Homo sapiens: one gene and its partner. The protein of the gene in region 1 purifies or fractionates together with the protein of each later gene. This does not show direct contact. Each region holds a gene or a part of one and is shown on either strand. Other genes may lie near its edges. The genes, in order: ZDHHC23 and POF1B.

Region 1 (6,063 bases):
TCAGCATTGGACTGGAAAGAATGGAGATTAGTAACTTTAGCACTGTTCCTCGGCATCCACCTGCAGCTTCCTAGAAGACATTTATAGCAGTCCCTTGGTGCCTTTGTTTTCTCATGAGTTAGATGTAATTTACGAATTACTTGTTTATTTAACAAACAGGTGTTGAACGCTGTTATGTCAGGCAGCGTGCTGGGTGTGTGGAGGGTACAAAATGCAAAAAACAGTCCCTGCTATTCTAGTGTAATATACTAGAAAATAGGCACCAGTAATTATAGAATAAACACACACATTCTCCTACTTAAGCAGGTTATTGGCATTCTGAGTATCTTCCAGTTCGGAGGGTTGGGGAAGATGCCAAAGTCTTTAGTAATAAGTAAAAAAATGTGTAAAACGTGAGAATGATGACAGTTTTCTGAATTTGACAAAAACGGCAGCCCTGACAGCCTTTTTCCCTCTCCTAGCTCGGCTCTGTCCTTCACCTGCGTGTGGTACTCTGTGATCATCACAGCAGGCATGGCCTACATCTTCCTGATCCAGCTGATCAACATCAGCTACAATGTGACTGAGCGGGAAGTCCAGCAGGCCCTCCGACAGAAGACTGGGCGCCGGCTCCTCTGCGGGCTCATCGTGGACACAGGCCAGTACAATAGGGGCTTCCTGCGGAACTGGCACCAGTTCTCCACCCTGGGCACACGTGCATTCCACCACCCTGCCGAGGACATTGTCTGAAGTGCCTTCTATGTGGCTCTCTGAGGGATGATGGCTCCTCCTTCCGTCTCCCTTCCATTTTACACTTCAGTGTCCATTTCTATCCCCAGTTTCTTAAAGGCATTATAGGGCCATGCTCAGGTTTAGAGACTGGAGTGGGAAGAAGTTAATTTTTCTGACGCCACAACTTAAGAGACTTTTATACTGAGGCAGTAAAAGTAGAGCCATTCCTTTCCAGTCACCTTTTTAATTGACTCAGTTGCCTGAACTTGAGAAGGATGTGGATTGCTAATGCACAAATTGATAGAAGCAATTCCCATCCATTAGTATGGAGGAAAGAGTGTTGGATTAGGATAGTTTCTAGTCCCTCTTTCGATTCTTAATAGCCATGTGACCCCTAGCTGAGTCACTTTCCCAAGTCTCAGGGTCATCTGCAAAGTGGGGTACTGATGCCTGCCCTGGCTACCTCACAGAGCCGTCATGAGGGTCACGTGAGGGAAGATGGATGTGGAAAGCACTAAAAAACAACTCAAGAGCCATGGAAATACAAAGTATTAGGAAAATATTATGATGGAAGAAAAACGTTTATAGTCTAGAATATTGAAGCCAATATTATTAGGGTAATCAGTTTTCAGCATATACCTTGTTGTACAGTTATGAGAATTTCTCCTTCTTATTAGACATGAACTACTCAAACAGAGAAGATGACCAGATGGATTGATGCTAAGTTGTCTCATCTTGAAAAGACAGTTGACAACAGTTATAAAGATAATTATTGCTAGTGTAATGTAGTGTGGCCATGAGTTTAGGTGATGAGTTCTTCTATTTATATTTTATAAATTCTGCTTGGGTTTCTTATAAATAACTCCAACAGGCATTCATGTGTTTTTCCTCTTCCCATGTTTCACCAGGTAAGGTGCTAGCACACTTGTGACTGTGGCTGGAAGAGGAGAACAGACACTCCTGTGGGGATGCTTTACTCTCTTTTCTGGTAGGAAGGCTGAGTAACATCACGGGCTCGATTATTTTCTTCATGTATTTCAAATGCTGTCAGTTATAGCACTAAATTGTGAAAATCAGCCTTCTGGCATTCACATTATTCTGGTATGAACTTTGAGGAGTTGAGTGACATCTTCCCACTTAACTTGCACATTAATTCTCAATTACCCCTCCCTAAATAACAGTATCTCACTAAGAGAGAAGAAACAGGGTATATGTGGTTTCCACTATTAATGGATTACTGTTCTTCCCTGGCTCTTCCGACAATAACAAGTTGTTTCTTTAATCATATCTTAAAACCGAAAATGTATAAAAGATTAAATATTTATGTACAATGGGTTGTTCTACTATAGAATTAAGATGAGGGAATTTCAGATGAGGAAAATACCCTTTTGAAATGTTAGTTTTGAACATGTACTGTTGTGCAATCCCAAAGATAATTCATGACTCCTTAAATTTGCCTTGGCTTATAGCTTAATATAGGGAAAATATTGCCAGCGTTTTCAGTCATTCTGTGCATGCTGCTTTAAGCAAGAGATTTATATTTGTTGAGAGGAAATATTGCTACTTCCTGCACTTCCACCCTCTGCAGCCAGCACCGTCCCTACTGTTGCCATTAATTGGAGCTGTCCTTAAGATGGTCACCATATTCTTATTCAGGCTGTTGTCATTTTCCCCAGAGATGGTTTGTTTAACGAATGATAGGCTCTGTGCCTGGGGATGTTAGCAGACTCTGGGGTTTGTACAGTGATGCCTTCTCCCTGGCCCAGAGCTGAATATTCATCTAGAATTAAAGTTGGATTTGATATAACAAATTTCTTTCTATACAGGTTTTACATAAGAGAGACAGTAATAATGTCAAGGATAGCCTGTGTGGGCAGAAATTGGTAGTCGTGCTTTTGAATGTCAGCTGTAGAGCCAACTCTGATTATCTAGCCATTGATCATACAAATTGATAGAAACATTAGTCAGTAATTTTAGCTTCTTGCCAAATTGTTCACAACATCTAAATGTAATGTGATGTGATGAAGATAAGTAGTACAAAGAGACCAAAATAATTTGGGAGAATTAGGAATGATGACAATTTTTTTTAACAACTTACCTCTAATAGGGTTACTTGGATGAGCCAACTCCGCTTCCTTCCCATGGATAGGAAGGGACTCTGTGTATTATTCAGGTTTATTGGCACGAAGATACTTGTTTTAAGTTCCTTGAGAACCCATGATGGACAGTTGACAGAATGCTTAAACCTGTCAAAAGATGAGTGATCTTGTGTGGGAAAAGCCTTCCCAGGCGTCTGTACCGAAAGGAGCAGCAAACAAGGGGCTAATCCATGAGCAGTGTTCTGTAGGCTCTGTGACATCTTTGGTTTATAGGATTTTGGAGCCTTTTATGATCTGGAACTATTTGAGGGGTTTCATTATAGGCCTTGGTTCTCTCCAGGGGCCAGATGAGTTTATTGTGGAATCTTTGAAAGGACAAGGCCTCTGTGAATGAATCAGTCCCAGGGAAGCATTTGGTGGTGGCGGCAGTGGAGGATTGCCCGGTGAACCTATAAATCAGCAGTCTCTTGGGCAGAGGAGCAAGCCCCTCGAACATGATTTCAAACAAGCAGGTCCTCTTCTCTCATCTCACGTCCTTAGTCTCTGTTAATGAACATACTGGATGTGGAGTTTAATAAATTACCTACTATCATCTGGCCACTTAGATTATTATCACACCACTGTGGACTGTTCCTGGGGGGAGAAGAACAGACCGATTTGAAAGATTCAAGGGAGAAAGATTAAGGATCAGGATTGCATGAAAGAAGAAAATCCTTCAATATTTAAAATGTTTCTTACAATACCCACGGAGCACTTTTATGGTTCCAGCCGAGCGTTCCTGAAATGAACTGACCATTAACAGCGCCTCTTTGATAGGTTACCCTGATGCTGCTAAAGTAAAGCCTTAAGTGTGTTTTTGGGACAACGTGCTGCTTATTCCACCTCAGCCACATATGTGTTTGTGTTTAGGATATTGTAAATCTTTGCTAAGTAGTGTTTTCCTTGGTGAATGAAGTCATTGTTGTCTTCAAGTGTACCATCTGCCTAGCAAAAAATTGCTACAAACTTTCTCTTATGCAATAGTCCTTGGTACTTCTAATATTTTTAGCAAGAGACAATTTTCTGTACTAGAATCTTCCACTGCCAGAAAACACAGTGCCAGTAAGGTTCTACATACCACTGACCATCTGCTTAATAGACATGTATTTCCTTTGAGTAGGACATTAGCTTTTGATTATAAAGCTCAACTAGTATAAGCAAAAATATAACATCTAGAAGCACAGTTTTAGCCAGGATGTTTAAAAATTACAGTTTTGTGAGACTTAAGGGTCTTTTTAACCTAGGTAAGTTTATATGACCTAACTTAATTGTAGCCATATTCTGGTACCTTCCATTTTGAAAAGTAGAGGTTGCTTAAGCAAGCAATGGATAATAAGAGACTTTTCCTGAGGCACCTGTTTGGAATCTGGTTTTCTCAGCGGCAGCTTGACATGTGCACCCTTTTGTATTAAACACTGCAAGGGTGATGCAGGGGAGCAGGAAAGCCATCCTAAACTCACTACTGAGTACGATTCAGTATGTTCCTGTGGATGTCTGCTGTGACTAATATAAATTTCTTGCAGAATCAGCTACACTTAATTATGTTGCTGATAGACAAGCATCCACGCTTCAGCTGGCACTAAGTGTTTTCATTGTAGGATCAGCAGCAGGTTAAAGACTGAACGGTTAGTGAAGACAAATGTCTTAAGAGGCTGCGATGTCTAGGTTGGGCTTGTGACTTCTTAGTGGCCTAGCCTTCTTGATGGCACCTTGAAAGTGAACTTCTAGAAATCTACATTTAAAAGGCAAAGCTTTAAAAGCAGAGCTAGTCTATTCTAGTTACTGATGCAACTAAAATTCTGTATTTCTTAAGATGGAGCCACTGACGAGATGTCACAGTATAGAGCCTGCAGTCTCAACTCATTGTGATCCTAATGGTCTGGGTGATTGGATGGTTTGAGTTGTTAGGGATTTTGAGTTTTTCATTTTATTGCATATCTGGGTTGGATGTTAGACTAAAGGAAACCCAGGAATATTTACCTGGTGTTACATTTAATATTTAATGTAACTGGTCTAGCAACATTAAGGGGGATTTCTGAAGCCAACTCCGGAGGCTGTGGGCTGCACATTTTGCACTGTTTTTATATACTTGTATTCATATCCTCTTATCACCTCAGACTCAGACACAAGGCCTTTTACATGGAAATTTTACAAATTACTTCCATTTATGTAAAATAACGTCCTGTGACCAAGTTGTTTAAATGGAAAATAAAGTGCTTTCTTTAAGGAAAATAGCTGGTGTTTCTTGGAGTGTCTCCTGAAGTCTTCTGATTTCTGAAAACCCTGCATTATACCTGTGCTGCCTCTGTGGCTCCCTCAATGTCTCTATCCTGTGGCCCTGTCCCTAGCCCTAAACTGTTATGTTCCCGGTGGCAATTTCTCCAGTTTTGTGGGTCAGGGATACTGCTTGTTGGGGCATTATGTTAACAGTAACATTTTGAAACATACTTTCATGATAGTCCAGCAAAAAACAGCATCAAAACTATTTCCATTGTATCTCTTTAGAAGGCTCTGTATTCGGTAAAAAGTCTAGCTGGCGCCATTGGAATATGGGCTGCTAAAGACTCAATTTCTAGTTGATGTTTGAGGTGAGGCAAAAATAAAGCTAAGGTAGAAAACTTAAGCTTTGTGGGATTTATTTATGCGCCTGGCATGTTGACTTAAGGAACTCAACCTTATGTACAGGCTTGGCATTTAAAGAAAACTGGTGGCTGGGTGTGGTGGCTCACTCCTGTAATCTCAGCACTTTGGGAGGCTGAGAGGATCACTTGAGCCCAGGAGTTCAAGACTAGCCTGGGCAACATGGTGAAACTCCATCTCTACCAAAAAAAAAAAAAAAAAAAAAAAAAGTTAGCTGGGCATGTAATCCCAGCTATCTGAGAGGCTGAGGTGGGAGGATCACCTGAGTCTGAGAGGTCCAGGATTCAGTGAGCCATAGTCAGGCCACTCTACCTCCAGCCTGAAGTACAGTGACAGAGTGAGACCCTGTCTCAAAACAAAAAAAACACAGAACAAACAAAATAATAAAATTGGTATTTCATTTCCGGGTGCTAATATCAGCCAGTATTTTGTAAATGTACTGTAGTTAGGTTTAAACTGTTAGTGATTTTGATGGAAAGTGATGTATTATGAATTACTTTTAGTTACATTTTCTTTAGTGGCCATTCATCTTGAAAAACACAGGTTTTTTTTTTTTTTAAATGACAACTGTATA
Region 2 (7,202 bases), on another chromosome or scaffold:
CTTCCTGAATCATAATTTTAGGTCATGTAGTAGGCATTTTCGATTTAATCAAATGTTTTCTGTAGCACTTTATTTTCCATTTCTAGCTTTTGAGTACATGCTTTTATTCTCTTAACCTCTTGTGCACTAAAATGGTGTTTATGGATATAAACATATTTTAAATTTATCTAGATATATAATGTTACTTTGTTTCTTTAATTAAACATATATTTTATGTTTTTTGGTTATTATTTTGTTTGATTGATAGAGTGTTTCTCAGAGAAAATTAAGTGTAGAAACCAGTTGCTGGTGAAATTTTCTAAATTAATGGTAGAATTAAAATTACTGGGTTTATCTGCATGAACACGTATAGTCAAACACAGATATAATCAAGGTCTCAGATGCATTTTAGAACTGAATGTGGTCTTGCAAATAAATAGAGTTCTAGAAGCTTAAAGTAAAACAAAAATTCTTAGTTCAATCTTTTACAAAGCTTAGCTGTTAACCTACCATCATTAACTCAAAATGAAATGCCTTAAATGAGCAACATTGATATGAATTACTCATTGGGCTAACATTCTTTCCTTCCACTAATTAAGGTTTTCATGAAGTTCGAGGTATTTTTCATGCATACAGAGCAGCTGTATACATGAGAGAGAAAAAATGTGAGAGAGAAAAAATGGATTAAAATAAAATATTTTTAAATACCAGTCATTCACTGAATACATGTTTATTAAGTGCCTATTTTTTAGCAAACACTGTGATTTTCTGGATAAATACCATTAACCTGTCCAGGGAGAGTTCATTTTTAGGACAGACATACAGAGCCTGGTCTGTAGGTGTCCCATGTGTCTATCTATATTTCATTTTAAAGGAGTATTTTGTGTTGTGACCATCAGCATTTTATCAAGTAAAACATGCTTTTGTGAGAGAAGGATTATTTTAGTGTATATGTTATAAGGGTTGCCATTCTTTTGAATTTGAAACTTGCAAAGAAACTCTAGAGAGCAGCCTGGGGGAAAATGTGTGTTTACGAATGACCTCTGTTCTCAACAATTATTCAGCTGGGGCTTACCTTTGTTTATATGATTTTTTTGTGCTTTTTCTTTGGTTGCAAAGATTGTGGATAACTCTTCTCTTCCACTATCAGAAAAGTTTCCCGTTCTGTGGGGAGGGGTGTGCTGCTTTGATAAATTGTTGTTCAAGGGCGTAGTCACTAAAGTGAATGATTGTTCAAGGAAGTGCGCTGCCTGAAAAAAGAATGAGGTCATAGGATAAAGGGGTTGCATTTTCAGCTTTGGTCTCCTCTTTTGTGCTTACAATTAAATGAAGCTATAGAAATTGGAGAGTGCAACTAATTGCTGAGTGAAAATGCCCATGGCAATTGTATCTTGTTTAACGGAGGTCTGATAAATTGCTGGGCCTGTTTTCAGTCAAAGGCACTCATAAGCTGTCACGGTGTGTGTGTGGCAAGATATGAGGGTGGCAAGTGGAAGAGAGGGAAACTGTCCTTTCAAGTTTATTTTCTTGACAATTCATGACAAAACAATTGGGAAATTTGCCATGCTCTTAAGCCCTATTTAAAAGTTAAAACTTTTATTAATAAATATATTTCAGCCAACTTTTTCTTCAGACCAGGGGCTATCCCAGTAGAGGTCATTTTTTGATTTTCAATAAAGTATATATACTCATAATTTTTAAAGACAGAAAGCATGCACTGCAAAAAAGACTGTGTATTTTATTTTCTCTCTGTCTCCTAGTTTTCTTCAGAAAAAGAAGAGAAAGAACCCAATATGGACCTCTTAAATGAGGGATTTGGGTTGGAGAGAAGGAGGAACAGGAAGTAGTTCTATTATACATTCGGTTGCTTTCTTTGTATGACAACAGAAACACAGATTTTATCCTAAATCAAAGAAGTGTTTATTTCATCTAAAGAGAGATTATTATAAATAACATGTTTCTTGCTATATAAGTTGAGTATAACATCTCAACAATAACCTCAGACAGGTGTTTAACTATGTTACATGGCTTTGAAAGATCCTAACAAAAACATCTCCCATACTATTCAGGGAATTTATTCAAATGGAGGTTTGCCTTGGCAAATTCTGTCAGCATAAATGTCAGGTGGTTTTTAAAGATATTGCTTCTTTTGAAACTGTTCAGCCTAGAGTATTTGTAACTCACCATTATTACCTTCAGTGATTCTCATAGTCATTGGGAGTAACAGGAGCATACACAAACCTTCCATGGTTTTCCTTCATGGAATATTATACTGTATATTAGTCTTTATGTAAAGTTTTAAAATTCAAATTAGACAACATAAAGAGTTATACTTTCATGTTAGCAAGTTTCCAAATATTTAGAAACAAAGCCTGCACTACGTATGTAATATTCTCTATGATTTAATTCTCATTACCTTCAGTCTTTCTTGTATGTCTTACACCAGGCTTTTGAGCTCTTTGACCACAGCTATCAACAGGAAAATGAAGCCAACAGGTCTTGACTGAAGAGGTTCAGATTTTGCAGTCTAAAGACCAATTGCAGAGAAAATTGTATGAAGAAAATGCCCAAAAAGGTCTATGTGGAATGTCTCAGGAAGAGCTGTAAATAAATATGCAATCATGAGGTGAACTTTGGCAGAATAGAACTATGAAGCAGTCTAGTTGGAGTCCCTAGGAATATTAATTTTAAAATCTCCACAACTTTAATTACACCTAAGAATATGTTCTCTAGAAAAGTTGCTTAAATTCCCTATACACATCCCATATCACTCCTCTGCTGCAAAAACCTTCAATGACACTAAGTATCTATAAATTGCTTAGTCTGACTTTCAAGGCCCTCCATGTTAGGGCTCCTGTGGAACTTCCTGGAACTCTCCTTCTGGTGTCCTATGTTTTAGCTAAGTGTAAATGATTGTTCTCTAAATAAAGTCCCCAATTTTCCACAGCTATGTCTTTCACTCCATTGCTCTTACATCTGAACTGCTCCTGCTCCTCACCCTCACCAATCTAGACACCCTGAAATTATACAAATTTTTCAAGCCTTTCCTCAAGTGTAACCTTCTGATCCTCTGATTGTCCCAGGTTGAAGTTATCTCTTAGCCCTCAAAACTTACCTAGTGAGCTTCTTATAGGTCTTATGATAGTCTACTTAATTCCTATTTGTACTCATAGTGTTTATGCCCTACATGATTATAACCATGAGAGGGTAGAGATTATATTCTAACATCATTTGTATCTCTTTCAATGCCACTACACAATAAGTAGTAAAGAAACTGCAAGTTAGTAACTTAGTCACATATATAATCAATCCAGTGAAAATAATATTTCATATTAATACATGGGTTTTTTGTTTTTCACAACTCTTCCATGTATATGATTATCTAGTAAACAACTTGATAGAACCTCAACAATTAGATAAAACATGCATTATTATGTTTATTGTACAAATTGTACGATGTACAAATAAAGACAATATTCATTGTGTATTATTTATCTGTTAAACAAATAAGGAAATTGAGACTCGAATAGCTCAAAATAACTTGCCTATTTAGTACAGCTGGTTAGTGAATGCCCTGAGTTTAAAAACCAGCTCCTGATATTTTCATTACATCAGCTATCTCCCTTAATTAACTTTCGATATTCATGATTTCAGTTTAAATTAGTTCACATTTTTTATTTCAACAAAACATTTGATGATTACCCTTACTGTATATTTTCCCATTCTAATGTTCCATTATCAGAATGGAAAATATCAAAAATACATTAGAGGACAAAAATAGTTTTCCCTCTAGTTTTCAAGGTCTTGCTCAGAAATAATCCTAGAATTCAGGGTATATATTAAGTTTTTAAGGTTTTCTTTCTTTCAAAGGAGAATAACACCTTTTGAGCTTCTGCCTTCCCTTCTTTCTTTACTGCACTGAGCTACTCAAAAGCATTTTCACTAAAGTAAATAACTGAGACATTTAGGCCATTTGCACATCATCTGATTTAACTCTGAAAACAGCTTATATATAAAACTGCCCTTTCTGCACATGTACCCCAGAACTTAAAGTATATATATATATAGTATATATAATATAATATATATAAATATGAATAAAATATATTTATATATATATATACTTTAAGTTCTGGGGTACATGTGCAGAAAGGGCAGTTTTGTTACATAGGTATAAACGGGCAATGGTGGTTTGCTGCACCCATCAACCCGTCACCTACATTAGGTATTTCTCCTAATGTTATCCGTCCCCTAGGTCCCCATCTTCTGACAGGCCCCTGTGTGTGATGTTCCCCTGAAAACAGCTTTTTTAACAAATAGGTGGAAATAAGATATACTTTTATGAATAATGAATTCTCTAGGGAAACCAGAGTTTCCTAGCTCAGATTTAGTGTGTACAAAGGTATGGACAATTATCTCAAGTGATGTAATGAAATTATCCCCAAGCCCACATAATTATAAACCAAATTCTTTTTCATTTCTTTTTTTTTTTTTTTTGAGACAGAGTCTCGCTCTGTCGCCCAGCCTGGAGCACAGTGGCACGATCTCGGCTCACGGCAAGCTCTGCCTCCCAGGTTCACGCCATTCTCCTGCCTCAGCCTCCTGAGTAGCTGGGAATATAGGCGCCCGCCACCACACCCGGCTATTTTTTTGTATTTTTAGTAGAGACGGGTTTTCACCATGTTAGCCAGGATGGTCTCGATTTCCTGACCTCGTGATCCGCCCACCTCAGCCTCCCAAAGTGCTGGGATTACAGGCGTGAGCCACCACGCCCGGCCCCAAATTCTTTTTCACCAGACTCTACTTAAAGTTGCCAATAAAGTATAATGTTTGTGTATATAGCAAGTCTGACCCACAGGAATAAACGACTCAACAAAATGCTGAATATTTTATCAGAAAAAGTAAGGTCTTCCTGCAAAATTGAAGAGATTAGATGATATGAGCATTAAACAAAAATTCAATGGTTTATTGAGTTTTAGAGGCTTGTGAGTACACTCTGTAAATGTACCACGCGTTTTACAAATTCTATTGAGTTTATGGAAACTTAAATTATCTAATCAAGGCTGTTCTCTCACACAGCTACTTGTGGGTGGGTGTCTTATTTTCAGGCCTCCAAAGTTGCTTTTGACACTGAATAATTTTAAAAGTCCCAGTATTTGACCTTCTGTTATAAGGACTAGTCAAACTTAACCATATAATTAGGTTACACAACTTGAAAAACAGAAAATATAATGAAGCAAGCAATAAACGTGGCAAAATATGGTGATTAAGAGCATGAGTTCTGGAGTCATGCTGAGTTGGAATTCCAGCACCTTAGCATTAGCTGTGTAATCTCCATCTGGTTACCTATCCTACCTCTGTCTAACTTCACTTGTTTATGTAATGGGGTTATAATAGTATCTTCTTTATGGGGTTATTTTGAGTGTTAAAGAGAATGATCTATGTAACATGTTTGGCACAGAAAGCTATTAATAGGTGTTAGTCATCATTATAATCATCATCAAAAGGAAAACAATACTGACAAGTTTAAAAAATTTGAAATTGTTTTGTTTGTATGGAAAAATAAGTTGGGAATGGTCTCTTATATTCACAGAACGTCAGAAACAAACTTAAAGATCCTCTAATCCACACTCGCCCACACCCATATCCCATTTCTCATTTCTCACATGAGGAAACAAATCTCAGAGAGAGAACATGAGTTGACCAGTATTACAAAAGTGGCTAGTAGTATAAATGGGAATAAAATCCAGGTCTGCTGACTCCAAGTCTAGCACTTTTTCCACTATGTCATGATAACCACCACCACCCCATTATCGCCTTCAATTATTTGGTCATCAGGAATGTGGGGCTGTGGCACAAAAGGCATAAAAACAAAAACATTGACTGTTCATTGAATTTAATAGTTTCAACATGAAGGATTTAGGTAAGCTATACACAGATGAGTAACAAAATTAAACACTGACTGATACAGGTTATTAAGAGGGAGATTTGGATTGTTATTCCTGGAGTGCTTTTAAAACTAAGATCTCCTTTTCATTCATTCTTTCAAAAATATTTTGGATCACTTTCTATGGAATGGTCAATGGCTATTTATGGGATGACTTGCTGCAATCTTGCCTAGATCTTGATGCCATTGAAAGTACCTTTCAACATCAAGGTTTTGTTCATTCTGGACATTTACTCACACCATCTTACTTAATTTTGTAGACTTCCAGGGAAAAGGGGTTTTCTTTAGCAAGTATTTCTGGAATTAATAAACCTATTTTCAGAGAGGTTTTCCCCCTTATGATCAGCCTAAATCCATACTGATGCAATTTAAATTCATGCTGTTCAACACCATATGTCTAAATATCTTTGACTCATATTAAGCTACATCTTAATGTTGTAATTTTTGAACCTATTATATTTGTTCTCTAATGTTTCCATGAGGGTTGCGTGGGAAAGCCACATTTGTCTAGATGATCAATTTTAATAATGAAGGCTGAAGTAGGGCTAAAAATAATTGAGTACATTATAATCTATGGACTTAATGTTCCAGCTTTCCACATATAAGAAGATTAAAGAATTCCTTCATTTTAGGGCAAGACTAGTCTTTGCTCAAATACAACTGTTTGCCATTTAAACATCTATTATCTTAACATCTGAATAAAGTAATACTGCTTATACTAGCATAAATAAATGTCTTTATCTGTGATGTGTGATGTGTGTGTATTCCTATTTGTTTAAATTTCTGCAGATTTATAAAACTTCTTAGTACGCTTTTGTATCTTAAAAGCTAGTCCAGTTGGCTAGTAAGATTTGCTATGTTTCATTTGCTAATGCCATCATATTTGAATTGGTTACAAGAAGGACAGAGCTATCATTTCTACAACAGCTACCAGATACTAACCATGTGTATAGTTGTCTTCTCAGAATGATACTAGTATAATATTATTAGCCCCAGCCTAAACAGACCAAACATCCTCTAGACATGAATACCTTCACACACTGCTGGTGGATGTATAATTATCATAGTCAAATTTGGGAAATTAGTTGGGCAGTATCTGTTCAAATGAATAACACACATACTCCATGCCCCAGCAATCCCAATTCTGTGTGGGATTCTAAAGAAACATGTTGCACAAGGATGCTCATTGCAGCACAGTGGAAACCTGGAAACAATATAAATGTTAATCAGCAGGAAAACATAAAAACAAGCTATAAAGCAAGCATTTTGGAATACT

The links.
Region 2: the proteins of ZDHHC23 (region 1) and POF1B purify together in Homo sapiens (affinity purification with mass spectrometry; 2 studies listed by BioGRID and IntAct, with this or other methods). This does not show direct contact.

Annotation. Positions count from the first base shown.
Region 1 is NC_000003.12:113,957,902-113,963,964, forward strand, and holds the end of ZDHHC23 (palmitoyltransferase ZDHHC23), read left to right. Parts: intron 1-461; coding exon 462-729; 3' UTR 730-1,619; coding exon of another isoform or gene 1,620-1,642; 3' UTR 1,643-2,818; coding exon of another isoform or gene 2,819-2,832; 3' UTR 2,833-5,472; downstream 5,473-6,063. UniProt on the Homo sapiens protein: Palmitoyltransferase that could catalyze the addition of palmitate onto various protein substrates and be involved in a variety of cellular processes.
Region 2 is NC_000023.11:85,369,618-85,376,819, reverse strand, and holds part of POF1B (protein POF1B), read left to right. Parts: intron 1-7,202. UniProt on the Homo sapiens protein: Plays a key role in the organization of epithelial monolayers by regulating the actin cytoskeleton. May be involved in ovary development.